4 separate regions of the Homo sapiens genome follow, and all the other regions are reported to be linked to region 1. The links are microRNA targets in miRTarBase. Many come from high-throughput screens and were not tested one by one. Region 1 holds a microRNA gene; each other region holds the end of a gene's coding sequence.

Region 1 (7,528 bases):
CCCGCTACCGCAAGTACCCACACTCCCACCATCACACCACACCCCCTCTCCTTTGTAGTCTGCATCAAGGCCTTTGGCCATAAAACACGGGGATCTCCCAATTGGAGTGAAAAACCTCACAAGCATTTCCACTTAGGTCTGAGAAACCCCTGACAGCAAACTCTGCTCTTGGTAATACAGTGGCTTAGGTCTGTTATTTTCAAATCAGCCAGAAGTAGGAAAACTTTGAGCGAGCTTGTGTGGTTTCCTTCTGAGAGAGTGAGACCTTGGCTGCCTACTTCTGTGTTTCACCGTAGCTGCCCTACGGAACAGAACATAGACCTTCTTGCGGGGCTAGCGTGTAAGCACAGCAGCACACCAGCCGCCTCGCCTGCGGCCTCCGACAGACCCGCAGGAAGAAACTGACCCTGGCAGGAGCTCTGCAGAGCCAAATGGCATTCTTTCTCCATGCACAAAAGTTAAAGCAAGCATCTGCAGCATTAGAAAAAAAAAAAAAAAACTTGTGTATTTCCTGCGGACAGGGAGACCTCCTGCCCCTCCCGGGCTGATACAACCCACTTTGCACATCCTGCTTCTCTGGGAGCTAAAAATAAATCGGTATGCACTGAAAAACACTCAAACACATCTCCCCAGCACACCCTTCCCAAGTCCTCGAGCGCAAGGGACACGAATCTTTCAGGTCCTGAGTCCAAAATGCAGACCACTTCCTCGTCCGTGTTCAACCAGCGCCTTTCGGCCTCTCCCTTGGCCCCCTCCCCAGACGCCCACGCCCCGCACTCGCCTCCTGTGGCCTTTCCGGGCAGACTCCGCAGGCCCGGGATCCAGCGGGTGCCCCGGCCCCCGGCCCCGGCCCCGGCCCCCGGGGCGGGATGCTCCAGAGGTCCCCGGGCCGCCAGGCTCACCAACGCCCCCTTCTGCCCAGCGCGCCCCATCCCGCCGGCCCCACGCGCCTCTGCGCGGCCCTCTGCAAAGTTGCTCTCTCCTTTTCTGCCGCCCACCCTCAAGGTCTGTAATTTTGTTTTGTTTTCCCTCAGAGGCACTGGGGGAATGACAGAGGAATTGACAGGGTGAACTGCACCCAGGAGGGAGCTGCTGGAACCAGGTTCCCAGAACCGCGCGCTCCTCGAACCCACCCCTGCGCCCGCGGCGCACCGAGCGCACGGGTCCCCCCCAGCAGCCGCCCCCGGCACACCCGCCCCGGCTGCAACTCCGACTCCGCTCTGGCTCCCGAGAAGCGGAGGGAAGGCGCTGCGACTCACCGCCTCGGCCGCTCCCAGCGTCTGTGTCGCTTCGGGCGAGGCGGCGGCAGCAGCGGCAGCGCCTTCCCTCCGCCCGCCTCCCCCTGGACAGCACCGTCGCCAGCCGCGCCCCCCTCCCCAGCCTGGCTCGCCGCCTCCCTCCTCGCGGCCGCAGACCCCCTCTCCACTGCAGCCCCGCAGGCAGCCTCTCCGGCGTGGGCTTCACCGCGGGGTTGCAGGGGGGCCAAGATGAGGCGCGGGATTTGCAGGTGCAGTGGACGCCCCCCCCCTCCCCCGCTTGCCCTGGTGCAGCCTCCGGGCGTGTCCCCACGGTGCCCCATAGTCCTAGCTCACCGCCCAGGCCTCTAGCCAGCCTGCACTGCTACTTTCCAAGGGGTGCCATCTGCTTGCCTCCTCGGGTCCTGGGAGGTCAGATTCAGCCTAGAGCACCTCCTTCCAAGCTTCGATTTGAGGGGGGGTCTGGGGTCCCTGCTCTACCGCAGTGAAGTTCAAGGGAGCCTTGGAAGGCAGTTGAAAAGCTTCTCAGGTGGTGTCCTCTGGACTCTTCATGCCCACAAGGTGGGAGGGGGGCTGCTTTTGTCTAACTAGTGCTTTCTCTACCCAAAGCCTTCTGTAAACTGTCTAGGAAAAGCTTAACAAAAAATCCGGAGGAAGACATCTAAGGGGCCCCTCTCCTGCCCCTCCTTCCTCCCCTCAAATTTTTCATCTCGTGTGGAGATAATGAGAAGCAAAATGTCTTGTCAATTCATTCACCCAATATTTATCGAGTACCTGCTGGCTGCCAGCACCTGTTTCCTGTCTTGCTGTGTCGTCCACTCATGGCCTCTCAAAAAGCCACTGTAACTAACTCCTTGTGCTTGTCAACCCTGGTGACATTTCCAGAACCCGCAGAAGGTCTCAAGAGCAACTCAAATTCATCAATTTAAAAAGTTGCTGCTTAAAAATAACAAGGCTGCAAAGGCACCGTGACCTGGCCTTCCTCGTTGTAATGTTTGCAAAATCTTTTAACATGACTGGTTATAGAAAGGACAGTTACATTGAGGTCCAGACAGCTGCCAACTCTGATTTAAACACCAAGTAAAAGTTTCATCTAATCAAAAGCACCCTTTCCTAGCTCTACCGGTTGCCTTCAATTGTAAAACAAAAATTATCTAGGAGGCTGTTAAACCATCATCAAATACTAAAACCTTTGCTTGCATTGGGTTAGCAGGTTAGCCCAGCATTTCCCTTCCTGGACACACAGGAGGAGAAATGCTGGACTAATCTGCTAATCCAATGCAAGCAAAAATTTGCATTGGAAAGTTGGATTTTTTGGTTTTTGGTTTTTTCTTTTTTCTTAATACTAGGCCCGACCCCGAGAGAATCTAATCTAATTGTTAAAAAAAAAAAAAATCCGGGGTTCAGGGGTGTCCAGCTTTGTATGGGTATTTTTTTCACATGGGCCCCAGGAGACTCTGATGTGTGGCCAGGGTTGGAAACCACCATAGGATTAGCCAATCATCAAGCAGGGCCTAAGGGAACGTCCCGTTGATACAGCAAAAGGTCTGCACAGGTGTTGCAAACTCAAATGTCCCTGAAGGATAAAAGCAGGTGACAAAGAAGTAACTTAAGTGGTTATACAGGGACAAACTGAGAAGGGCACAATGGCCCTGAAAAAGGCAGCCTCATTTTTCTACGTGGGAAAAGAGGGTCCAGTGTGGCCATCAAGTCGGGGTATTTTATTTTATTTTGGTTTGGTTCCCCCTGCCCCCAAGAGAAGCCAGAAGTTCACGTTTAATGTGAACTCTTCTAATTTAAAAATATTAGTAACTTATTTTTTAAATATTTTAAAAAATTTTAAATATTTTTTAAATATTTCTCTATAAGCCAAGAAAATAAGAATTTGTAGGCCACAAGTGGTCCCCTGGTCATCGGTTCGTCACCTGTAGTCTGGACAGATTCTGTGCATAGGAAGCAGTTAGGAAGGTGCTTGGGGTGGGATTCCTCAGAGAGAGAGGTGATTTTAAAGTCCACTTTATCTACTTTTCTTTATTGATGTGATTTTTCTTTAATGATCTCTACTGTTAAAAAAAAAACAGTTTTGCTGAGGTATAATTCACACATCATACTATTCACTCAAAATATGCAATTTAATATTTTTTGCATATGCAGTTAGTTGTACAAACTATTACCATAGCCAATTTTAGAACTGATTTTCATCACCCCATAAAGAAATCCCACACCTATTAGCACTCATTCCCTTCTTTCCCCAACCCCCAACTTCCAGTGACCACTTATCTATTTTCTCTCTATGTAGATTTGCCAATTCTGGACATTTTATATAAATGGAATCATACAATTTGAGGACTTTGTGACTGGCTTCTTTCACTCAGCTTAATGTTATCAAGGCTGTCTCATGTTGTAGCATGCATCAGTACTTTGTTCCTCTTTATGAACAAACGATGTCATTGTATAGCTCTATCACATTTTGATTATCCATTTATCAGTTGACAGACATTTAGGTTGTTTCACTTTTTTACTATTGTGGATAATGCTACTATGAACATTTCTGTTCGAGTTTTTGTGTGGATGTACATTTTCATTTTTCTTGGGTATATATATAAATTGCCAGATCACATGGTAACTCCACGTTGAACATTTTGAGAAATTGCCATACCTTTTCCCAAACCAGCTGCACCATTCTACATTCCCACCAGCACTATATGAAGGTTCCAGATTTCTTCCATATCCTCGCCAACACTTGTTATTTGCCACTGAAAAAATCATACCATCCTAGTGGAGGTACAATGGTATCTCTTTTTTTAAATTTTTCTTTAAGTTCTGGGATACATGTGCAGAATGTGCAGGTTTGTTACATAGGTATACATGTGCCATGGTGGTTTGCTGCACCCATCAACCCATCATCTAGGTTTTAAGCCCCACATGCATTAGGTATTTGTCCTAATGCTCTCCATCCCCTTGCTCCCCAACCCCCACAACCGACAGGCCCTGGTGTGTGTTGTTCCCTCCCTGTGTCCGTGTGTTCCATGTGTTCTCATAGAGTGGTATCTTATAACATTTGATTTCCATTTTCCTAATGGCTCATGGTGTTGGTCATCTTCATGTGTGTATTGGCCATAACTTCTTCAGAGAAATGTCTATTCAGATCCTTTGCCCATTTTAAATTTGGTTATTTATCATTTTATTATCCAGGTGTGAGAATTTTTTTATATACTCTGGATATAAGTCCCTTATCAGATCTATGATTTGTCAGTATTTCCTCCATTTCTGTGGCTTGCCTTTTTATTTTCTTGGTGCTGTCCTTTGACGCATAAAAGTTTTCCATTTTGATGAAACACAAATTATCTGTCTTTTCTTTTGATGCTTGTACTTTTAGTGTCATACCTAAAAGGCTTTGCCTAATTCAAGAACATAAAGATTTATGTCTGAATGTTGGGCCCTGCTTTTTTTTTTTTAAGATGGAGTTTCACTCTTGTTGCCCAGGCTGGAGTGCAATGGCATGATCTCGGATCACTGCAACCTCCGCCTCCCAGGTTCAAGTGATTCTCCTGCCTCAGCTTCCTGAGTAGCTGGGATTACAGGTGCCCGCCACCATGCCCAGCTAATTTTTGTATTTTTAGTAGAGACAGGGTTTCACCATGTTGGCCAGGCTGGTCTTGAATTCCTGACCTCAGGTGATCCACCCGCCTTGGCCTCCCAAAGTGCTGGGATTACAGGAGTGAGCCACCCCTCCTGGCCGGGCCCTGCTTTTTTAAACGCTCTTTCAACAGTGTGGTATTGAAAACTGGGAACACTGAGACAACCGGCAGTAAGTCTACATTCAGAGCCTCCCACCTCAAGAGGTCTCATTTGCTGGGACAGTTCTCTCACCACCTCATTTGGTCAACTTTGGGCACTGACTGGCAAGTTTGTGTCAAGCAAGCAACTGAATGTATAGATTTTAGACTAGCCAGTCCAACAATGGCAAGTATTCATTCTAAGGGCCTCCTGTGTGCTTAGAGCTGCTCCAGGCTCTCAGGATATAGCACTAAACAAGACAGACAGGTTCATGCTCTTGTGGGCCTTAAAGTTTAATGAGAGAAAAATAAATAGAGCACATAAGACATATATTAGATGAGTGCCTATGTCAGTAATTCACATAGAATGATTGATGGAACAGCTGAGGAAGGAGCCAGGCAGGGGAAACACAGTGCAAAGGCTCTAACTTGGGGGTAGGTTGGGGGGAAATACACAGCTTATTCTGGAATCCAGGAAATCAGATGTGCTAGAGCTTGGTGGGGGTGCCTTTGGCTGAACTCCCCGCAAGCAGAGCCTGAGCAAAAGTTTAGGCATGAACAGTGCGTAAGGAAGTGAAATCACAGGGGAGTAGGACTGAGAGAAAAGGGAAGTGAGTCAGGAGAAGAGGGAGAGCAACTACAAGGAAGTGCATTCCGTGGCTGGGCATTGCCTCTCGAGTCTGCAGGAGCACCAAGGGTTGGTCAGGAGGCAGTATGGGGGCATTACTGAGAGTTTAGGAGGGATCCAAGAGAAAGGCACTGATCTATGGTCTTCAGAGAAACAATGTAATGCTTCTGAAGTTCCAAACATCTGTCGGCAGTGGAGGAAGACTACTGGTGTGGTTGGAAGAAAGAAAACTTACTAGCAGGCTCCCTTCTCCCGTTAGTCAATTTAGTCTCCCATTAGTTAACTTAGCCCTCCTAGGTTGCATTTGAGTGGCCACAAAGTAGCTGCCTGGACAACATCAGGGAAGTCCCAAGGTGGAAGGCAAGGCATATGACAGGAGGTGAGGCACTGCTGGGCTGGCTGTACCTGAGAGCGCCCTGAGGGACTGGGAGCAGCAGCCACAGTGAGCACCTCAATCCGAAGTAGTAGCAGAAGTAGCAGCAACCCGGCCCCCTGAACACAGTGATAGTACAGACCACTGCTGGGTTTGCTCTAGCAAATTGGTGCATTATCATCTATCTTAGAGGATGCATAAAATGAGCTTAATACAGTGGCCAGAAGGGAGAGTAAAAAACAAGGTCACAGAGTGCCAGGGCCAGACCATGGACTGTTTCGCAACCTGGGATCAAGAACATAAAATTTACTCTCAGTTGGAATTTATTCTAAGAACAATGCAAAGTCATTGAAGGCTCCTTTGAAATGTATTTTTTTTAATTGACAAACAATAAAATTCACTTTCTTAATAAGCAGTTCTGCTTGTTTTAATAAATGCACGGTTGAGTAGCCATCATTTCTATCAGAATTCAGAGCACTGTCACCCCTCCAAAAATGTTACTGCCCATTGTAGTGAAGCCTTTGCCCTAACCCTAGCCCCTGGCAATCACTGATGTGTTCTTTGCCTCCGTGGTTCTTTCTTTTCAAGAACGTCAGATCAATGAATCATATAGTATGTAGCCTTTCAAGTCTGGCTTCACTTAGCATGAAGCATGTGTTATTCATTTGTGTTGTTAAGTACATCAATGATTTATTCCTTTTTATGGTATGAATGTACCATAGGTTGTTATTCATTCACCAGTTGAAGGAAAGTTAGGTTATTTCCAGTTTGGGGCAATTATTAATAAAGCTACTAAAATAATTGCCTACAGTTTTTTCTGTGAATACAAGCTGTTATTCCATTTGGTCAAATATATAGGACTGGCATTGCTAGATCCCATGGTAAGTGTATAACTATGATATATATAGCTAAACTATATATATCAAAAAGACAGAAAATAACAGATGCTGGCAAGGATGGGGAGAAAAGGGGAATGCTAATACACTGCTGGTGGAAATATAAATTAGTACAACCACTATGGAAAACTGCATGGAGGTTCCTCAAAAAATGAAAAATAGAACTACTATATGATCCAGCTGCTGGGAACATATCCAAAAAAAAGGAAATCAGTAAATCAAAGAGATACTTACACTCCTATATTTACTGCAACACCATTTCACAATAGCCAAGGTATGGAATCGACCCAAGTGTCTGTCAATGGATCAATGAATAAAGAAAATGTGGTATATATACACAATAAAATATTATTCAGCCAAAAAAAAGAATGAAATATTGTCATTTGTAGCAATGTAGGTGGAATTGGAGAACATTATGCTAGGTGAACTAAGCCAGACACAGAAAGACAAATACCACATGTTCTCACTTATATGTGGAATCTAAAGCAATCAAACTCATAGAAGTGGAGAGTAGATGGTGGTTACCAGAGCTGGGAAGGGGAGGAGTATGAAAGGAGGCTGGTTAATAGGTACAAAAACACACTTAGATAGAAGTA
Region 2 (7,528 bases), not on the chromosome of region 1:
GGTACGGAAGGATTGTCACGTAGGAAGCGAAATGAAGTTATTTCTGAGAGAAGCAATGGGCAGCCAGCTCAGCCATGCAGCCTTCGTGTCTGTCCCTCTTCCCTCCGCTGCCCCACTTACATCATCCGACTTCTGCCATTGAAGCTCAAGCCCTTGAAGCACCATAAATTATTAAGTCAACAACTTAGAATGCATGCCTGCAGATTAGACTCCGTATTGCTTCCAGGGAATTCAGATATTTGAAGAAATAAATGGCTTTAGTAGCTGATATACTTGCAAAAAAATGCGATTTATTTGTTTTTTAAGTAACTGACAAGAGTCTGATATATTTTCACCGTAGACTATAAAAGATGCGCCAGGCTTCTTACCCGGCTGGCTGTCAGTCCAGTGTGCATGGAGGATAAGGTAAGCTTGGACAGACACACACTGGAGCACATACCAAAGATGGGAATCCCGCTTGGGACATGAAAAATTCATGGGAGTTTAGGAACACTCATTCTTTGGCTGAAGTAGCCATATTCTAAGTAGAGATGGCACAACACTCATCTCACAGTGCTGAAAGCCACCCTACTGGCTTGTCTACAGGGCCCCGGCAGCTGTTGTTAACTGCTCACTGCATGGCACACGGGCACTAAGTGGGTCCTGCTCTGAAACACAGCAAGTCAGCCAGTGTCAGCATGTGACTGAGTGCGTAAGTCAGGAACAGACTAAAATTGTCCGTTTACTTCGAGGCATTCATTCATTCACTAACACAAGTGAGTAGATGACCAACATTGTCCCTGCAAATTCAGATTATCACATCTGGTACATGTTTGAGTTGTAGTCATAAGCTCATAAAGAACAGCTATCCTCTTTAAATGTTTCTATCAATGGTTTTTTTTTTTCACAGCCTCTAATAGTAAAAATGTAAATGCATACCACGTTTATGAACTAAACTTTGCACCTTGGCCCCTTGAGGGCTGATATGCAACATTTAACACCAACCATCAGCGGATGTTTTGAAGGGTAAGGTTTTATTTTCCTGACACAAATGCCACAGAATCCAGTCACTTTAGACAGCAGGATGCAACTGTAATTTCACCAATTTTATACTTACTATGTGTCTTGTATATGTGGGCACTGCCAGATGCTGGCTACACCAGCACAAGAAAGACAGGCTTCCTGTCCATTGATAGCTGTCCGGAGCACATTCATGAAAAGGGAGTATTTTTATAGTGGTTACTCTAGTTTCTCTCATGTAAAATGGATGAGGGTAGGGTAGTGCTCTTTCCTATATAGATGTGCTCTCTATGCAGAGGCAGTGCTTATGAATATTTAGGTAGCAGCAGAAGGGTTGTGTGCATGACCCCAACACCGGCAGGAGGCATGGCGGGTCCTGCCCATGCATCCCCCACTCCATCTTTCCCAGTAGAAGAAACTGCTGCTAATGAGAGGAATGGCACTGGGGGAGGGAGGCCAGTGGGTAATGGCGGGTTGAGACTGCATTTTGCACAGTTTCACTGCACTTTTTCTTTGGAGATAGTGAAGGTGTCAATGTCAGTCAAAGCTGGGAAGTGCTGTGTAGTAATGTCTCCCCACATCCCTGCTCTTTCCAATTCTCTCGAGCAGCTCATCCACTGCCTATGTGTCACACAGACTTTCTTCTGTTTAAATCAGTGAACAGATGTACATTCCTGTCACCCAAGGTGATATGCCAGGGGAGATGAGAATTTTTTTTTTTTTTTAGGTATTTCTTTATAATTAAACACAGTGTTCCCAGAGATGGGCCAGGGACATCCTTGGAAATTTTCCACTTACTTACAAGTGAGGAGAGCAAATTCCCCACTGTCTCAGCCACTGGAAGAGCTACTCCGTCCACATGCCCATTAGCCGACCCCTGCCTCCCCTCCGCTGGCTGCTGCTGGAGGCAGGTGCAGTTACACTGAAGGACGTGGTCATGTCAGTGGGACTCAGGCTCCTGTATGGGTCTCTGCGTGCGCACGTCCTGCTTTGCAAACGCCACAGTGATGCCCTGCAGAAAAGCTGTGGCAGAATCCCCTTGATAGTCCCCAGCACTCTTCACATCACTCTCCCCATCACCAGACAACCACATCAGAGCCTGACTGACGATGAGATGCAGGTAAAGGTAACAAGACAAGGCCCAGGCTCGCAAGCTTCTGTCCCCAAAAGGCCACCTGCTTGACAGCCACAGGTGTCACAGCTGTAACTGGGTTCATTTTGGCCAAGAGATAGGTAAAGTTTAAAATATTGATACCCTGTTAACTATAATTTCATAACTCCTATTTTTTAAAGATAATTTCTTCAAATTCCAAAAGTTTTAAACAGCAACAGCAAATTGTTACTGGTGTTAACAAATTGTTAAACAGCAACAGCAAACTCTTACTGTGGCTGGTCACCACAGTGTAGATACAGTCCGGGCTTTCTCTGTGCTTTGCAGACCTCAGTGAGACACCAGAGGGCAGGGCAGGTGTCCCAGGGTGCCCACACTCGTGTGACGGTGTGGCATCAGGCAGGCCCTGCAGTCCCAGTTCTGCTGGTTAACCTGCCACATGCACTTCTGTCCTGACACACAAGGATGGCAGGGCAAGACCGTAAACCATGACCTTGTCTTTGTAAAGAAAGGCCCAGAGCCTGAGAAAAGCAGGCCTTTAGCAGGAAGGGCTCTGCCCTCCTCACCTCAGAGCAAATCCATTTGCCGCGTTCTGAAGCTCATTAATAGACCTCCTCAGGCCAAAGAGAACAATGTCCCCACCAACCCTCCCTAACAGTCACAGATACACTTCATTGTCCGGACTTACAGGTCAGTTAATCAGAAGCCTGAGCTCTGGAATATTGTCAAAGAAATGGAGTTTTGAGTAGTGAGTACATGGTGTACTCTCCCAAATGCAGCCTAATCTTAGTAACCTTGAAGTTTATCATTCTTTAAAAATAAATAGAATACCAATGGTTTAGATATTCCAACAAAGAATGCTAGAAACAAATGTCTAATCTCGATTATTAGCTTTACCAACCCTGTGAACACTGAGGTTGCAGAACTGCCAGGTTAATCCCTGTGGCCTAGACTACTGAGGATTCTGATAGCACATGTAAGACTAAGCACTCTTCAAGCTGTAATAAAGCATCCACATGTATCTGTGATGATTTTCATTGCTTTAGCATTGCAGCCATGTAACAACTGCAGAAAGAAGGTATTTTTAAAAATACAATAGACTACACTTTTTGGATCACAGAGAAATACAGATGCACTCTGAGACTGCCTATGTTTATAAACATGTTGTGTCCCCTAACTGAAGTGACAGGTCTTCTGGAATTGACATTAAGAAGTGTGGATAGTCATATCACACGCAATGTATTTGTTTTCAGCAGTGAGCAGACCGTACAGGAGCAGCACACCAGGAGCCATGAGAAGTGCCTTGGAAACCAACAGGGAAACAGAACTATCTTTATACACATCCCCTCATGGACAAGAGATTTATTTTTGCAGACAGACTCTTCCATAAGTCCTTTGAGTTTTGTATGTTGTTGACAGTTTGCAGATATATATTCGATAAATCAGTGTACTTGACAGTGTTATCTGTCACTTATTTAAAAAAAAAACACAAAAGGAATGCTCCACATTTGACGTGTAGTGCTATAAAACACAGAATATTTCATTGTCTTCATTAGGTGAAATCGCAAAAAATATTTCTTTAGAAACATAAGCAGAATCTTAAAGTATATTTTCATATAACATAATTTGATATTCTGTATTACTTTCACTGTTAAATTCTCAGAGTATTATTTGGAACGGCATGAAAAATTAAAATTTCGGTCATGTTTTAGAGACAGTGGAGTGTAAATCTGTGGCTAATTCTGTTGGTCGTTTGTATTATAAATGTAAAATAGTATTCCAGCTATTGTGCAATATGTAAATAGTGTAAATAAACACAAGTAATAAATGAAGTGTTTGTTATAATGACTAGTCTTCAAAGTGACTCTCTACCTCTTTAACAGGTTCACTGTTGGGAATTCGTGACTTCTGATTTACTGAGAGATCATGACACTGGCAAAAGGTCATAGAATATGAAAGCCATAAACAAATGAAAACTTGAAGCCTAAGAATTTCTCTAAGGGATAATTAGCATTTTTTTTAAAGTAAAGGCTACTATATATTGGTGACATAATTTCCTAAGATAGTCCCTGATTTGCTGGGAAATATTCCAAATAAGGTTGTATCCATTATTTCCCAAGCGATTTTGTAATCATGAAAATGCTTAACTAGGAGAAACCTTAAGACTTCTAAGCAGTCTCAGAATTTTAGATGTAGATGTATTTTAAACAAATCTAATTGGATCCAATTTAAAAAGCTGAATTCGGCAAAGCAATGAGTTTCTCCATTCATATGAGCCCTTGTCGGCAGATGGTATCGTCTGGGTGTAGCCATAAGGACAGAATAGTCAAGAGTCCTAGGATTTGTTTGAGGATCTGTATTTATAGAGATAAACATTAAAGAAAAACTATAGGATTTTATTTCCAAACATAAAGGAATAGAAGAGTAAGAAATTTTGACTTTGAGATTAAAAGCAATTACTGAATGAAGAGAACAGGGTGTAACTTTTGAAGTGCTCTTATTTAATCCTGTTTTCTAATTACAGCTCATTACTTGACCTTTCCTTCCCCATTTTTTATGTTTTAAGGATTTCATGTTCAAATATCCAATCTATTAATATTTAATCCCCTCAGTTTTCTGTATGTCTGAGTAATTCCAACAAGAGCAAGACTCACTGGGTTTGCAAACTTTCTTCCTATGAAGACAGCCTGGCACTTCCACATGGTACAGTGGGGAAACTACTCACTTTCATCTGGCAACAGCTTATCCTCCAGATACTAGGGAGTCAAGGATCAAACGTGTCTCCTCCCCATGGCACTGCCTGGGACCCTCATGATACTGAGGTCAGGAGTGCAGATGTCCTGGCCAGGCAGCTGTGCATCACTGCACAGGAGGGCACAGCGTAGAGGCAACATGTCCAGAGGATGGTACTGGGCAAGGACAGTTCCAGCTGTAGAACCTCAAACTTCCTTCAGAAACTAGACATGATGACATGGGGCAGCAATGTGCTTATTTTCATCATTTTACTTCCTTATCCTGAAGATAAAATATGCACACCTAACATCACAGATCATGTAAAAAGGACAATACAATGTTTTCAAATGCTTCCTTACCTGTCAATAAAAAAACAGGCAGACACCAGATTTATATCTCTAGTTGTATTTTTATAACTCCCCAGTTTATTTTGAAATATTCATGATTTTGACATTATCTCAAAATACACAGAAATTACCTTACATCTGCCTATACATTTATTAAATGCTGATGAAGAATACTTATTCAATATTTAAGCATGCCAAATAATAACACTTTTCCCAACTTTTAAAATTATTTTAAAAAATAAGCCAATTTATATTGGACATTTGGGTTACATGTGCATATAAAAACAGTCATATTCCTCAACTGACCATAGACTAGCATACAAGTGTCCTTCTTTCTGGATGTAATTAAGTTTCAGAGGCAAAGTGGTTCAGATGGGAGCCAATGGGCTGACCTCCTCATGAAGTAAACTCGACAAAAATCATGAAGTATTGAAGGTGCCAACGACTGATTCCATAAATGTTTCTCTCTTCCCTATCTTTTCAATATACAAGTGTGCACTATGGGTGTGTAGAAATTAAAACACTTCTAATCTAGACTGTGAGCTCCTACGGAGGGGACTACTGTCAATCCACAAAAGGCCCTAGGGAAGAGAGAGGTAGCACTGGGGAGCAGAGGGCACCTGCCCTCCAGGCCATCCACACAAACCTACTGAAGAGGTAGACTCGATTATCTAAGTCTCAACAGGCTTAGATGTTGACCTGGGCCTTCAAGTGAGGTTTTCCTTCATTGTTTTATGTTGCTTGTTCTACTATTTTTGTAACTGGGGCAAAGTGAGATGTTCAACTAGTCTAAGAATGCTTAAAATACCCCATAAGCTGTCTGAATCAAAGATTTTTATTGATTCTCCTGCCAAACACAACTGATTTCCATCTACAATTACTTTTTAAGGTAAGAAACAGTAAGTCAACTGAACAAAGAGCTGGGCTTTGGGCCCTGGAACGTGATTACACACCGACTGAGAAATGCAGGACCTCAGGGTGGGGTCTAGTCAGGCTGGCCGCAGCAGGGCACGAACCTGCCTCAGTGGGCCTTCTCCAAGAACGCTCTGCAGCACCTGACACACTGCTGGTACACCGTCTCAAAGTCAGAGTCATTCCCCTAAATGGACAGGAAAAAGAAGAAAATGGCAAAACCTGCATAACAAAAACATCCTTAACACAATCTCATCTGTTATTTAATATGGCAGGATACAAATGTGTTGGGTCTTCATATTAGCCCTAAAACGTGAACTGTACTTACATAATAGGGATCTTCAATAATAAGTTGTTTTTGTGGATCATAGCTCCCAAGTAGTTCAATTTTAGCTTTGCAGGTTTTAACTTGATTACTTTTTCTATTCAAATCTCTGTAAAATTGAAATATGAACTTAGTTTTCTGATCTATGGTTTCAAGTTAAACAGGGACATCTGCTAGGGTGTTCTGAAACATCCATATCAAAATCAAGACAGAATGACCTAATTTGAAATGAAACGGAACACTCAGCAGGCCCGTGTGGCCCCTTCTGCAGCTGTATGCCACTGCCCTCTCTCTAGGCAAGACAGTTTGCGACAGCAGCTTATTCTCACTGATTCTGTTACACAAAATATACAATAATTATATTTTCTCCCACAAAATACATTTTAAGACAATCAAGTTTCAGAGATAAAGGTCATAGAAAGGAACCCAAAACACCATCTGAACCAGTCCCAAAACAGAGGGCTACCAATTCCATCCTCAGGTGTCTTGACACAGCACTTCCCACAGCACGACCCACTCCTTAATTACTCTTCCATCTTTTATTCCTTAAGCCTCTGCCCAAGCTGAAAACTCAGCTTCACTCTAGACTTCCACCCTTAGCTTTCACATTGCTACAAAAGAAAAAGGCAAACTTAACTAAGCGCCTCCATTTATTTAACAAATTTCGACTGAGCACCTGCGACAGATGAGTTGATGAGTCAGGTACGTGCTTTATGTGGGAACGGAACAGCCAAGAGCTCCCATGCACGAAGTTTTACAGCTCAGGATTAGGTGCAGGAATGAGAACTGCAGGCAGGCCTAAGTCTAATGCACAATCTGGCCTAATGACAGGGCAGCAGAATACCTCTATCAAGAAATGAATTTAAGCTGACCCACGAGGGGCAAATAGGAGCCGAATGACCCAAGAAGCAAGGAGGAGCTTCCAGGCAGAGGAACAGCACGTGCAAATGTGAGGCTGCAGGAACTCCACTTGCCCCACACGCAAAGAAACACGGTGCTCAGTGCCAGTCAAAGCAAATGGGGTCTCCTAAAAAGGTGTTTTTACGATGCCTATGGGCTATGGTGTCAGCAAAAACAATGAGAACAGAATAAGGACTGAAA
Region 3 (7,528 bases), not on the chromosome of region 1:
AGTCCGGAGGGCCTGTCCTGCTGTGGGTTCTCCATCACCAGCTCCCTTCTCATGGGGATTGGAGTCTAGAAGAAGATGCAAGTCAGTCTCCTCTTGCTAACAACATGCCCTGGGCACAGAGCCATCATTTTCTCCCAGAGCCAGTCTCTTGTCCCTGGAGGCACCTCATGCCCCGAGAGATGTTGAAGCCCGCCCATCTGCCCAGGGTCCTCTCCCTTCCCCTCCGTCACCTCCACCTCCCCTGCCTCCTGCGCCCTCTGTTTGTATTTTATGACTCTATAAACCCTTTTAAATGGCCCAGAACAAACAGGGCTTACATAGTGGCCTCTTCATTTCTCCTATTGCCAGTTAAACGCTTTGTCTTCAACAATGACAAACAATGTTTTCCCCCTAAGATAAATTAATTACATTATCCTGATTGGAGGGCAGGAGGGGCCAGGGCGGGAGAGGGAATAGAAAAAAAGGCAACTTCACACACATCTTAACAAACAGCTGCCCCAGCCACCCCAGCTCTGCCTGAATTAATTGAACCCAGTGTGTGTTGTTATTGTTAATTTACATTTTTCTTTGTTTTGAATCTGGTTTACAGGCTGAAGGAATATCATCGTCTCCAGAGCAAGGTCACTGCCAAATAGACCCGTGTACAATGAGGAGCTGGGGCCTCCTCAATTTGCAGATCCCCCAAGTACAGGCGCTAATTGTTGTGATAATTTGTAATTGTGACTTGTTCTCCCCGGCTGGCAGCGTAGTGGGGCTGCCAGGCCCCAGCTTTGTTCCCTGGTCCCCCTGAAGCCTGCAAACGTTGTCATCGAAGGGAAGGGTGGGGGGCAGCTGCGGTGGGGAGCTATAAAAATGACAATTAAAAGAGACACTAGTCTTTTATTTCTAGTGAGTGTGTGTGTGTGTGTGTGTGTGTGTGTGTGTGTGTGTGTGTGTGTAGTTAATTATGGTTTTCTTAGGCCAACCTTTGTGTTTTCGGACCTAAGTGCTGCCGAAGGCCGCCATTTGCCAGACAGCCTGTTAATCTGGCAGTCGACCCCTCTCCAGCAAAAACTAGGAATCCAGAAGTGCCGCCTGGGTCCGATCCTAGCCAGCATCCTGGGAATCTGTCACCAACTGTGGTCCTGTGGCAAATGTCAGGAAACCAAATAAAATTCAGGGAATGCCCTTTGGGGGCATCAACGCACAGCCCTTTCTCTGGACATCACTTTTACTCACAGCCCACAGGGAGCTTCTATAGAGGGTGGCCATGAGTGACCCTAGGACACTTACCACAGCTGCATGGCCTAAAGCAGCCTAAATCATGAAGGAGGAGGGAGAGGCCTGAGCAGAGAGGAGAAAAGAGCAAGCCCGGAACTTGGCAGCATTTCTCATTGTCCACAAACCAGGCCCTAAAGCAGCCATGTTTGTAGTGTGGCCCTGGCCCCCCTTGGTCATATCTGATTGGACCGTGGATGGACACCTGACTCGAGCTGGCCAATCAGAACCCGCAGGAATTGGGCCTCGGCACGTGGCCGAAGTGAGGACATGTAACACAGGCACTCACCGCTGGGATGCTGTGGACCTGGGGCACAGAGCAGGTGTAGAAGGAAAGGAGAGGGAAGAGATGGGAAGAGAGGGTCATGGTATTGGCGTCCATATTTCTGTACTGGTGCTTCATGAAAGCTGGTGGCATCTCTTGGCCTGGTTTCCCTGACACCTGATATCATAACGAATTCAGGACTCCAGCTCAGTGAGAGAGTTTCTGCTCCTTGCAACCAAAAGCATCTTCACTGGGAAGACTTGAGTGCCGCTTGCTCTGTGCTTTGCCCTGGTTCTGAACTCAGAACCTGACCTCAGGGATCGCTTCGCCACTCCGCTGCCTGTGTCCATGAGGGTTTCTCGCAAAAGAAGTTTTACCTTTAAAACTTATTTTCCTCTGATTATTAATGTCCGTGGTAATAATAAATGACTCAATATTAGCTTTGTGCCAAACACTTCGCTACACACTTTATTCACATTATCTCATTGAATCTTCAAAACCACACTTGGAGGTGGACACTTTCATCTCCATAATGTAGAGGTAGCAACGAAGCTGCAGATAAACTGACTTGCCAAAAGCCACTGAGCTAGCAAGTGACAGAACCAAGAACCAAACCCCGGCCTGGCTGAGTCCCCAAATCTTGTGCGTTTGTCTTGTTGTTGTTGTTAAGATGGAGTCTCGCTCTGTCACTCGGGCTGGAATGCAGTAGCGCAATCTCGGCTCACTGCAACTTCCGCCTCCCAGGTTCAAGCGATTCTCCTGCCTCAGCCTTCTGAGTAGCTGGGATTACAGACGCCCACCACCACGCCTGGTTAATTTTTGTATTTTTGGTAGAGACGGAGTTTCATCATGTTGGTCAGGCTGGTCTCGAACTCCTGATGTCAGGTGATTCACCCACCTCCGGCCTCCCAGAGTGCTGGGATTACAGGCGTGAGCCACTGCACCTGGCCATTATGTCTTTAACCATAGTGATAAGCTGCATCTTTAAGAAAAGAAATAACTAGCCAGGCACGGAGGCTCTCCCCTTTAATCCCAAAACTTTGGGAGGCCGAGGCGGGTGGATCACAAGGCTACGAGTTCAAGACCAGCCAGTTTGAGACCAGCCTGGCCTCGGCCTCCCAGAGTGCTGGGATTACAGGCAGGAGCCACGACGCCCAGCCACATTTGGTATATTATCAGTCATATGTCTTTTTCTTTTCTTTTTTTGTTTTTTGGCTAAACATCCTATAATGCACATATATTTTTTCCTATGCTTACAATATTTTTGCAGTTATTTAGGCTAAAGTATAAATGCTTTATATTTTATAGTTATAAATGTATACTTTATACTTTAAAGTATAAACTTTAGCCGGGCACGGTGGCTCATGCCTGTAATCCCAACACTTTGGGAGGCCGAGGCAGGCGGATCATGAGGTCAGGAGATTGAGACTGTCCTGGCTAACACGGTGAAACCCCGTCTCTACTAAAAATACAAAAAATTAGCCGGACACGGTGGTGGGCACCTGTAGTCCCAGCTACTCAGGAGGCTGAGGCAGGAGAATGGTGTAAACCTGGGAGGCAGAGCTTGCAGTGAGCCAAGATTGCGCCACTGCACTCCAGCCTGGGTGACAGAGCGAGACTCCGTCTCAAAAAATAATAATAATAAAGTATAAACTTTATATATTTATGCTTTAATGTATATACTTTGCACCCTATTTTTAAAATTTTAACATATCATAAATGCTTTCCTATAACATTTAAAAACTCAATCCTTAAGCCTGGGCGCAGAGGTTCATGCCTATAATCCCAGCACTTTGGGAGGCCGAGGTGGGTGGATCGCTTGAGTGCAGGAGTTTAAGACCAGCCTGACCAACATAGCGAGACCCCATCTCCATAAAATAAATAAATAAATAAATTTTTAAAACTCCTTAAACATTTTCAGCGATTACATAATATTTTGTTAACATTGATACTCCCTAACTTAACCTTTCCCCATTTATATATTTAGTTCTCTCCATATTCTAAATTATTTTTCTGCCTTTTGTTGAATTTATCTTTTATATTTTAAATAAATAGAGATGGAGTCTCACTATGTTGCCCAGGCTGGCCTCAAACTCCTGGGCTCAAGTGATTCACCTGCCTCAGCCTCCCAAAGTGCTGGGATTACAGGCATGAGCCACCATGCCCAGCCCTTTTGTTGAATTTAATGGAATGTTTTTAAGAATTGGTTATTAGCTATACTTAATTATTAGTTATGGCTTTTTTAGTGCCCTCTCTGAGAGTTATTTTATATATCTTTAACTTACCACAGTCTACCTTCAATTAATAGTATGCCACCTCGAGTGTAACATAAGAACTCTGCGACAGTACGAGCCTAGAACATTTCACTTTATGCTTTTGTTGTCATACATATGCTACAAAATCCCATAATACATTGCTATTATTTTTGCTTTAGACAGTCAAATATCACTTTTAAAAGATTAAAAATAAAAATAAAAAAAAGATTTTAAAAGATGAAAAATAATGGTGGGCCATGCCTATAATCCTAGCACTTTGGGAGGCCAAGGTAGGAGGATTGCTTAAGCCCAGGGATTCAAGACCAGCCTGGGCAACATAGGGAGACCCCATCTTTACAAAAAATTTTAAAATTAGCCAAGTGTGGTAGCACATGCTGGTGGTTCCAGCTACTCAGGAGACTGAGGTGGGAGGATCGCATGAGCCTGGGAGGTAGAGACTGCAGTGAGGTGTGATCACAGCACTGTACCCTAGGCTGGGCAACATCTCAAGACTCTGTCTCAAAAAATAAAAATAAACAGCTGAGATTGCACCGCTGCACTCCAGCCTGGGTGACAGAATGAGACTCTGCCTCAAAAAATCATAATAATAATAAATAAAGATTAAAAATAAGAAAAGAGTTTATCTTATATTTATCCATATATTTCTTTTTCTGATGCCCTTCATTCCATTGAATAGACAAAGTTTCTATATATATCATTTTCCTTCTGTTGAAGAACTTTTAAAAGTATTTCTTCTAGTGCAGTGATTAATTCTTTCAGTTTTTTTTGTTTTTGTTTTTGTTTTTTGAGACAGAAGCTCACTCTGTTACCCAGGCTGGTGTGCAGTGGCGTGATTTCCGCTCACCCCAACCTCTGCCTCTTGGGTTCAAGCGATTCTCCTGCCTCGGCCTCCCGAGTAGCTGGGATTACAGGCCCCCACCACCACGCTGGCAAATTTTTGTGTTTTTTAGTAGAGATGGAGTTTCACCATTTGGCCAGGCTGGTATCAAACTCCTGACCTCAAACGACCCATCCACCTCAGCCTCCCAAAGTGCTGGGATTATAGGCATGAGCCACCCCACCAGGCCCAGCTTTTATTTCTTTGAAAAAATTTTATTAACATTTACAAGTAGGTCCTTGCTCCATTTCGAGTTCATTACTGTGTAGGTTGTGATTCAGGATCAAAGTTTATTTTTTGAAAATACTGATGTTTTGCTGTTCCAGCACCGTTTCTTAAAAAGTCTTTTTCCTATTATATTACCTTAGCATCTTTGTCAAAAATCAATTGATTAGGCCAGGCATGGTGGCTCACCCCTGTAATCCCAGCACTTTGGGAGGCCAACGTAGGCAGATCACCTGAGGTCAACAGTTGGAGACCAGCCTGGCCAACATGGTGAAACCCCATCTCTGCTGAAAATATAAAAATTAGCCGGCCATGGTGGCGCAAGCCTGTAGTCCCAGCTGCTTGGGAGGCTGAGGCATGAGAATCACTTGAACACGGAAGGCAGTGGTTGCAGTGAGCCAAGATCGCACCACTGCACTCCACCCTGGGCAACAGAGCGAGACTCCGTCTCAAGAAAACAACAACAACAACAATCAGTTGATGGGTATGGGTCTACTTCTGGACTCTCAATTCTGCTTCATTAATGTATGTGTCTAGCCTTACGCCAAAAACTCTCTGACTTGCTTATTATAGCCTATAGTAAATCTTTTTTTTTTTTCTGATTTATTTATTTATTTATTTATTTATTGATCATTCTTGGGTGTTTCTCGCAGAGGGGGATTTGGCAGGGTCACAGGACAATAGTGGAGGGAAGGTCAGCAGATAAACAAGTGAACAAAGGTCTCTGGTTTTCCTAGGCAGAGGACCCTGCGGCCTTCCGCAGTGTTTGTGTCCCTGGGTACTTGAGATTAGGGAGTGGTGATGACTCTTAACGAGCATGCTGCCTTCAAGCGTCTGTTTAACAAAGCACATCTTGCACCGCCCTTAATCCATTTAACCCTAAGTGGACACAGCACATGTTTCAGAGAGCACAGGGTTGGGGGTAAGGTCACCGATCAACAGGATCCCAAGGCAGAAGAATTTTTCTTAGTACAGAACAAAATGAAAAGTCTCCCATGTCTACCTCTTTCTACACAGACACGGCAACCATCCGATTTCTCAATCTTTTCCCCACGTTTCCCCCCTTTCTATTCCACAAAATTGCCATTGTCATCATGGCCCGTTCTCAATGAGCTGTTGGGTACACCTCCCAGACGGGGTCGTGGCCGGGCAGAGGGGCTCCTCACTTCCCAGTAGGGGCGGCCGGGCAGAGGCGCCCCTCACCTCCCGGATGGGGCGGCTGGCCGGGCGGGGGGCTGACCCCCCCCCACCTCCCTCCCGGACGGGGCGGCTGGCCAGGCGGGGGGCTGACCCCCCCACCTCCCTCCCGGATGGGGTGGCTGCCGGGCGGAGACGCTCCTCACTTCCCAGACGGGGTGGCTGCCGGGCGGAGGGGCTCCTCACTTCTCAGACGGGGCGGCTGCTGGGCGGAGGGGCTCCTCACTTCTCAGACAGGGCGGTTGCCAGGCAGAGGGTCTCCTCACTTAGACGGGGCGGCCGGGCAGAGACGCTCCTCACTTCCTAGATGGGAAGGCGGCCGGGAAGAGGCGCTCCTCACTTCCTAGATGGGGTGGCGGCTGGGCAGAGACGCTCCTCACTTTCCAGACTGGGCAGCCAGGCAGAGGGGCTCCTCACATCCCAGACGATGGGCGGCCAGGCAGAGATGCTCCTCACTTCCCAGACGGGGTGGCGGCGGGGCAGAGGCTGCACTCTCGGCACTTTGGGAGGCCAAGGCAGGCTGCTGGGAGGTGGATGTTGTAGCGAGCCGAGATCACGCCACTGCACTCCAGCCTGGGCACCATTGAGCACTGAGTGAAGGAGACTCCGTCTGCAATCCCAGCACCTCGGGAGGCCGAGGCTGGCGGATCACTCGCGGTTAGGAGCTGGAGACCAGCCCGGCCAACACAGCGAAACCCCGTCTCCACCAAAAAAATACGAAAACCAGTCAGGCGTGGCGGCGCGCGCCTGCAATTGCAGGCACTAGGCAGGCTGAGGCAGGAGAATCAGGCAGGGAGGTTGCAGTGAGCCGAGATGGCAGCAGTACAGTCCAGCTTCGGCTCGGCATCAGAGGGAGACCGTGGAAAGAGGGGAGAGGGAGAGGGACAGGGAGAGGGACAGGGAGAGGGAGAGGGAGAGGGAGAGGGAAAAAAAAAAGCGCCTATAGTAAATCTTAAACCTCATTCTTTTAAGACTGTTTTGGCTATTCTGAGTCCTTTACTTTTCCATATACTTTTTTTTTTTTTTTTTGAGACAGTCTCCATCTGTCACCCAGGCTGGAGTGCAGCAGTGGTGCCGTCTTGCCTCACTGCAGCCTCCGCCTTTTGGGTTCAACCAATTCTCCGGCCTCAGCCACCTGAGTAGCTGGGATTACAGGTGTGCACCACCATATCCAGCTAATTTTTGTATTTTTAATAGAGACGGGGTTTCACCACGTTGGCCAGGCTGGTCTCGAACTCCTGACCTCAAGTGATCCACTCACCTCGGCCTCCCAAAGTGCTGGGATTACAGGCGTGAGCCACCTGCCCAGCCCATATATGTGTGTGTGTGTGTGTGTGTGTGTGTGTGTGTATATATATATATATATATATATATATACACTTTTTTTTTTTTTGAGATGGAGTCTCACTCTTGTCGCCCAGACTGGAGTGC
Region 4 (7,528 bases), not on the chromosome of region 1:
TACTCCCAACATTTATGACAGATTCTGGCACATGATATCTACTTAATAAATTCTTTTTGAATTAATTAAAAATACTGTAGAGTTTTAGTTATTTTTAGTTATTGGGGTGAAAGGATCACTTGCAGCCAAGAGTTCAAGACCAGCCTGGGCATCATGGTGAGACCGCATCTTTAAAGAAATAAAAAACAGGCCAGGCGCAGTAGCTCACGCCTGTAGTCCCAACACTTTGGGAGGCTGAGGTGGGCGGATCACAAGGTCAGGAGTTCGAGACCAGCCTGGCCAATATGGTGAAACCCTGTCTCTACTAAAAATACAAAAATTAGCTGGGTGTGGTGGTGGGCGCCTGTAGTCCCAGCTACTTGGGAGGCTGGGGCAGGAGAATCACTTGAACCCGGGAGGCGGAGGTTGTAGTGAGCCGAGATCGTGCCACTGCACTCCAGCCTGGGCAAAAGAGCGAGACTCTGTCTCAATAAATAAATAAATAAATAAATAAATAGAAGGAAATAAAAAACAATTAGCCGGGCATGGAGGCATGCTCCTATAGTCCCAGCTACTTGGGAGGCTGAGGCAGGAGGATCACTTGAGCTCAGGAGTTCGAGGCTGTAGTGAGCTATGATCAGGCCACTGCACTCCAGCGTGGGCAACAGAGTAAGACTTTGTCTCTAAAGAAAAGTCACTAGAAATAGACTTACTGACATACACACGCAAAAGGCTATACAGAATCCCCTAAAGAAGCAAACAGTGACAGTGGAGTGGCAAATGGAGACATTGCATTTGAACTTGACAGATTGTTTTTTTGCAGCCAAGTTATCTGTATAGTCTTCTAATTTCACTGTGGTTTTTTATTGATGTTATGATTTTTTCTTTTTCTTTAGGGGCCTTGGACAAGTTGTTACTGACTATGTTCATGGGGATGCCTTGCAGAAAGCTGCCAAGGCAGGGCTTTTGGCACTTTCAGCTTTAACCTTTGCTGGGCTTTGCTATTTCAACTATCACGATGTGGGCATCTGCAAAGCTGTTGCCATGCTGTGGAAGCTCTGACCTTTTTGACTTCATACTTTGAAGAATTGATGTATGCCTCTTTGCCTCTGCTTTGTCATGCCATTAAGCTCACAATAAGGAAGAAATAACAGATAAGTCCATTGGTGGACAGCCTTCTTCTCTTAATCACAAGATTATTTTCAGAATTTAATCTTTGAGGAAAAGGTTTGAGAGGAATTATATCTAAGTTGTGAGACTGAGTTCTATATTCTGGTGAGTTAATGGGGTTGCCTCCCAGCTTCTTATAAGACTCACAGTATAACTAAACATGATATATCAGCTTTTGCCTTTCAATTTATCAATCTCTTAAAGAGAATCCAACTTTATTACGATTAGTATATGATCAAACTTCCATATTTGCCTTGGGAATAATGGACAAAGGGAAATACTCTTAATTCATGAATAAAAACTTTGCAGAAAATTAGACAGTGTTTAATTTTCGAAAACTTCCCTCTCTAGACAGTAGATACCACCTACTGATGGTTACATATACTAGGGAAATTTTAAAATTAGGAAATGCTGATAGCTCATATTATAAATTTCTAAATCCTAGGAAGAAACGCTTGGAGTGCTTCTGAATATACAGAAGTTCCATTTAAGGGCAAGTTTCCCTGTAGATGTATCAAAATACTACCAACTGTAAATTGAGATTTAATTCCCAAATGTATTCTACTTGTTCTAAAACAATCTGTCCACAAATATAAAACTATAAGTAATAAATTGTTATTTTCGCACAATGGGAATCTCTAATGTGAAAATGTATTCTATGAAAATAATTTTTTTAAATAAAATGTTATATAATAAAAGTGTCTTCTATGCTTTTATATATTAGCTATCAGTAGTTTTATTCATTAGAATTAGGTGTCCATTGCATCCACAGCATGAAAACAAAATTGGGTTTTTTTTTTTTTTTGAGACGGAGTCGCACTCTGTCACCCAGGTTGGAGTGCAGTGGCGTGATCTCGGAGCACTGCAAGCTCCGCCTCCCAGGTTCATGTCATTCTCCTGCCTCAGCCCCCCGAGTAACTGGGATTACAGGCACCCACCACCACGCCCAGCTAATATTTTGTATTTTCAGTGGACATGGGGTTTCACCGTGTTAGCAAGGATGGTCTCGAACTGCTGACCTCGTGATCCACCCATCTTGGCCTCCCAGAGTGCTGGGATTACAGGCATGAGCCACCCCGCCCAGCCAAAATTGAGTGTTTAAATTTTCTTCTGGGGCTTAGCAGTTAGGTAAATCAGACACAAAGTACTGGAAAACAAAAAGGACTTGTAATAGGCAGAAAAATACCAAGTGTATAAGTAATTTGGTATAAACAGAGTATAAGGTTTAGTATTTAGGAATAAGAACTATGTCCAGATTATGGTGTTCTGTGAATACCAGCCTTTGGAATTCATATTATGTTCTATGTGTATTTAGTCTGGTCTAAGAGTTGAGTGTAAGGCATGATGCTGTCTTCTATCAATATAGAGTAACTGGGACTAAGCACATTTTACTCACCAAGGACCTTACTGGGAAGCTGAGGCAAAGGAAGAGTATGTGTTTATGAATGTGTACTAGGGGTTAAAGACATGCTCTCCTTGATGTGCCTGTGGTCTTGTAGAGACTCAAGTGTGCATTAGGGTTTAGGAAGAGGTGATTAATTCTGTTTTGGGGTGGGTAAAAGGTTTCAAAAGAGGGTGATGCCTGAATAGCAGTGGCACACCAACAGATAGTGGTGGTGGGACCAGTCCACCCTGGTGGGAGAGAATATATAAACAATATTCTGACATTGTTTAGAATTGCTGATGCTTGATGATGATAAAAAACAAATGGACTAAAAGTCAATTTTATTGTTTTAAAATTCTCTATAGACGATCCCCTCCCCACCTTGTAGTGTCATTCCTTCCCTTCCCTAGCTCTCAGTATACTGCTGCTGTAGAGTGGAGTGATGAAATGGAGTCTTCCATAAAGTCAAAATGGGGATGGCAGTGACTCTGGATAATATGGGAATCCATAGCTATCTCTAGTACCATCAGATCCTAGATATACAAGGCTGTCTAGTGCTAATAAGCTTCATTAGATGGTGAACGAAGTTGGAGTGGAGGCTGGTTGGGCACTGCCTGCCCCATGTCCCTGCTGGTTTGGTCATTAGGATGGAGCTGAGCTGTCTTTGGGAAGTCAGTAGGTTGCTGTGAGCTGCTGGAAAATGAGGCAAGATTCCGGAAGGGTGCTGTGGCTCATGCCTGTAATCCCAGCACTTTGGGAGGCTGAGGCAGTAGGATTGCTTGAGGCCAGGAGTTTAAAACCAGCGTGGGCAACATAGCAAGACCCTGTCTCTACAAAAATACAATAAAACAAAAAAAAGATTAGCCGGGCATCACTGGCAGTGGCATGTGCCTGTAGTTCTAGCTACTTGGGAGGCCGAGGTGGGAGAATTGTTTGAGCCCAGGAGTTTGAGGTTACAATGAGCTATGATCATACCACCGCACTCCAGCTTAGGTGACAGAGTGAAATCTTGTCTCTTTAAAAAAAAAAAAAATCCAAGGGCTAACAGCAATAGTAGTTTCTGACGGTAAGCAGGACATGATCAGAACTGTGCTTTAGAAATAATTTGGGTACCATTAGGTGGGTTAATAAGCTAGAGGTAGAAGGACATGTGAGGGGATAGAGACAGAATAAAGGGCCTGAACTTTGAGAGTAGCAGTGGAAGTAGGAGTCAATCTCAAAAGGTATTGTAGAAGTCAAAAACATTAATTCATTCATTTGATAGATACTAAGTACCTCATGTAATCAGCACTGTGCCAGGTACTGTGGATAACGATAAAATTTTACCTGCCTTTGAAGGGAATTCATAGTCTAATTGGGGCAACAGAAGAATGACTGCAATACGGTGTAGTAAGTGCAGTGATGGTGAAGCACGTCATGCGCTGTGATGTAACAAAGGGTGCAGTAAGGATTTGCCTGCAAGTTTCCTGGAAGAGAAGATTTGTAACCTGGGTTTTGAAAGATAAGGAGCTGACAGTGGCTGGGGAAGCTGGGATGAGGTGTAGGGTTGACTGGAGGATGGCAGATCAAGCAAAAGATGATATGTAGTTTGGTATGACCCAGCACAGGGAGGGACTGATTGTAGAGGACCTTATATGCCACGATAAGTAATTGAAACTTTATCTTTTTTTTTTTTTTTTTGAGACAGAGTCTGACTCTGTGGCCCAGGCTGGAATGTAGTGGCGCGATCTTGGCTCACTGCAACCTCTGCCTCCCATACTCAAGACATCCTCCCACCTCAGCCTCTTGAGTAGCTGGGACTACAGGCACATGCCACCATCCCTGGCTAATTTTTGTATTTTTTGTAGAGATGGGGTCTTGCTCTGTTGCCCAGGCTGGTCTCAAACTCCTGGCCTCAAGTGATTCACCCACCTCCGCCTCCCAAAGGGCTGGGATTTCAGGCGTGAGCCACTGTGCCTGGCCTGCGACTTTATCTTGACAGCAATATGGAGTTACTGAAGACTTAATTATGCAAACGGCATGATCCAATTTTTATTTTAAATAGGTTTTGCTGACAGCTATGTAAAGAATGGATTTGTGGGAGGTAAGCATGGAAACAGATTATTTTAGTGACCCAGAAAAGAAATAATGAATTGTGAAGGCAATTGTAGCTAGAATGAAGGAGAGAACAAATTTAAGAAATATTTAGAACTTAGAATCAATGAGAGTTATACTAAGATGTGAACGCTTGAGGGAGGAAGGAGCTTTGCTCAATTTTTTGTTGTAAATAGGTGGATGGGAGGTAGTGTCATTAAAGAAAAATGTTGAAGGAAAATTAGATATGGTACTGGAATCAGTAACTACTGAAGTTTTGGATTTGTGAGACGGCTAGGAAGAGATAGAATTTGTAGACTTCTATTTTTTGGCAATATGGCAGACTCAATTTTAGAAAGTATTTACTTTGATATGAAGCCTGTTAGAATGTTAAACAAGAACACCTTTAAAAATATTTCATTTATTTATTTGGGACGGAGTTTCACTCTTGTTGCCCAGGCTGGAGTGCAATGGCATGATCTCGGCTCACTGCAACCTCCGCTTCCTGGGTTCAAGCGGTTCTCCTGCCTCAACCTCCTGAGTAGCTGGGATTACAGGTGCCCACAACCACACCTGGCTAATTTTTGTATTTTTAGTAGAGATGGGGTTTCAGCTATGTTGGCCAGGCTGGTCTCAAAACTCCTGACCTCAGGTGATCCACCCACCTCGGCCTCCCAAAGTGCTGGGATTACAGACCACTGCACCCGGCCAAAACATATTATTTAGTTTGCAAAAAGAAATCTTCTGGAGCCAGACCAAAGTAAGTCTGCAGCTAGGGAGGTAAGCAAGTGCTTAGGGTATCAGTTGCCCCTAAGAGTATCTACTAAGCCCAGGTGGCCCAGAGTTCTAGTCTTCTTCTTCTTATTATTATTATTATATATATATTTTTGAGACAGAGTCTCGCTCTGTCACCCAGGCTGGAGTGCAGTGGTGCGATCTTGGCTCACTGCAAGCTCCGCCTGCCAGGTTCACACCATTCTCCCACCTCAGCCTCTGGAGTAGCTGGGACTACAGGCGCCTGCCACCATGCCCGGCTAATTTTGTTTTCATATTTTTAGTAGAGACGGGGTTTCACCGTGTCAGCCAGGATGGTCTTGATCTCCTGACCTCATGATCCGCCTGCCTCGGCCTCCCAAAGTGCTAGGATTACAGGCATGAGCCACCACGCCTAGCCATTATTATATTTTTTTGAGTCAGAATCACGCTCTGTTGTCCAGGTTGGAGTGCAGTGGCGTGATCAAACTCACTGCAGCCTTGATCTCCTGTGCTCAAGTGATCCTCCCACCTCAGCCTTCTGAAAGTAGCTGGGATTACAGACTTGTGCCACCATGCCTAGCTAATTTTTTTGATTTTTAGTAGAGATGAGGTCTCACTGTGTTGCCCAGGCTGGTCTCAAACTCCTGAGCTCAAGTAATCCACCTGCCTTTGCCTCCCAAAGTGCTTGCATTATATGCTTGCGCCACCATGTCTGGCCGGATTCTAGTTTTAAGAAGGTGGCACATAGGCCAGGAGAAAAGCTTAGGGCTCAAACCAGGGAGTTAGAATGAAGATTCCCCTAAACCAAGAACCATAAAGAGTTTTGCCCTCAGAGAAAGGGTGAATTAGAAAAAATGATATTTGCTCACACCTGTAATCCCAGCACTCTGGGAGGCCGAGGCGGGTGGATCATCTGAGGTTGGGAGTTCGAGACCATCCTGACCAACAGAGAGAAACCCTGTCTCTACTAAAAATACAAAAAAAAAAAAAAAAAAAAGGGCCGGGCGTGGTGGTGGGTGCCTGTAATCCCAGCTACTCGGGAGGCTGAGGCAGGAGAATTGCTTGAACCCGGGAGGCAGAGGTTGCGGTGAGCTGAGATCACACCATTACACTCCACCCTGGGCAACAAGAGTGAAACTCCATCCCCCCCAAAAGAAAAACTGATATTTATCTGAAAAAGCAGAGAGCAGAGCAATGTGTGTATCTTGCCTTGGCTCAGGTTGGAGGAAAGAGTCTCTTCTGAGAATGTGTGGCTAAGAGCCAGTCCTCATGCCAGTTTGGAGTCCGAGTTCAAGTTACCTGCATATCTAAAAAGGTTACATGGGGCAAATTTAACTTTGACCTAGGTTTGTAGGGCATGGTAGTCAGCACAAATCCTCACCAGAGAGAGAAGGGTTACCCCAACACAAGCTTCAAAAATCCCCATAAAGTTCCAGTGAACGTGAACTGTCAGCAAAAATCACAGTACTGGAATGTCCTGAGCAAGAGTCAGCACAAATAAACAGAACCATACCCACAAAGAATTCAGACCCTGGAATTTTCAGATACACATTATAAACATAAGATGAGATATAAGTCTAAATATAAGTCAGCTTTCTGCTCAGGGATCAGAAAGCTTTTGGAGAGAGTGGTATATACTTGATGTTATCGTCTCAATTCATAGAATCTTAAAAAGTAGATGTCTACTTAGGAGAGTTTTCTCCTCTGGACACCTGATAATGAGTGTCAGGGTCAATTCCCAGTGGGGCTGAATGTTCAGTTTCTGAGACCTAAGCACCACTGTGAAGCATGTATCCATGACTATGGGCCTGGAGCTTCAGAACGGTGTCTATGAGATTAAAATACCCAAATGGTCATTTCCAATGTGGTTCTAACTCTAACTTTCATCAGTGACTGTTTCTAAACTAGTCTTCCAGGCCAGGTGCAGTGGCTCATGCCTGTAATCCCAGCACTTTGGGAGGCCGAGGCAGGCGGATCGCCTGAGGTCAGGAATTCGAGACCAGCCTGGCCAACATGGTGAAACCCTGTCTCTACCAAAATATACAAAAATTAGCCGGGTGTGGTGGCATGCGCCTGTATAGTCCTAGCTACTTGGGAGATTGACGCGGGAGAATTGCTTGAACCCAGGAAGTGGAGGTTGCAGTGAGCTGAGATTGCGCCACTGCA

The links. The annotated mature microRNA hsa-miR-5680 reads GAGAAAUGCUGGACUAAUCUGC and lies in region 1 at 2,506-2,527, shown strand. An mRNA with a match to its seed (bases 2 to 7 or 8) in the 3' UTR can be bound and repressed. Matches are read on the target gene's strand: a 7mer-m8 pairs with bases 2 to 8, a 7mer-A1 pairs with bases 2 to 7 and ends in A, and an 8mer does both.
Region 2: the mRNA of ACP1 is a reported target of hsa-miR-5680. Seed matches in the 3' UTR shown: 7mer-m8 at 6,150-6,156 and 7mer-A1 at 5,700-5,706.
Region 3: the mRNA of ASS1 is a reported target of hsa-miR-5680. Seed matches in the 3' UTR shown: 7mer-A1 at 882-888.
Region 4: the mRNA of SDHD is a reported target of hsa-miR-5680. Seed matches in the 3' UTR shown: 7mer-A1 at 1,580-1,586.

The regions. Positions count from the first base shown.
Region 1 is chr8:102,122,978-102,130,505 of GRCh38, forward strand. MIR5680 (microRNA 5680) reads left to right here and starts at 2,455; the gene lies at 2,455-2,538. It also overlaps a transcript of NCALD not described here. RefSeq lists silencers at 740-929, 1,300-1,359.
Region 2 is chr2:275,988-283,515 of GRCh38, reverse strand. It overlaps ACP1 (acid phosphatase 1), which reads right to left. Exons shown (of 6, transcript NM_004300.4): 5 at 6,431-6,536; 6 at 5,233-6,289. The coding sequence ends at 6,212. It overlaps ALKAL2 (ALK and LTK ligand 2), which reads left to right. Exons shown (of 6, transcript NM_001002919.3): 5 at 341-405; 6 at 3,364-3,958. The coding sequence ends at 3,369. Among named protein-coding and RNA genes, the nearest start is that of ALKAL2, 8.3 kb to the left of the region's middle.
Region 3 is chr9:130,500,387-130,507,914 of GRCh38, forward strand. ASS1 (argininosuccinate synthase 1) reads left to right here. Exons shown (of 15, transcript NM_054012.4): 15 at 590-888. The coding sequence ends at 635. Among named protein-coding and RNA genes, the nearest start is that of ASS1, 59 kb to the left of the region's middle. RefSeq lists enhancers at 1,276-1,570, 4,760-5,259, 5,443-6,289.
Region 4 is chr11:112,093,930-112,101,457 of GRCh38, forward strand. It overlaps SDHD (succinate dehydrogenase complex subunit D), which reads left to right. Exons shown (of 4, transcript NM_003002.4): 4 at 876-1,865. The coding sequence ends at 1,041. Among named protein-coding and RNA genes, the nearest start is that of SDHD, 11 kb to the left of the region's middle. RefSeq lists a silencer at 5,842-6,050.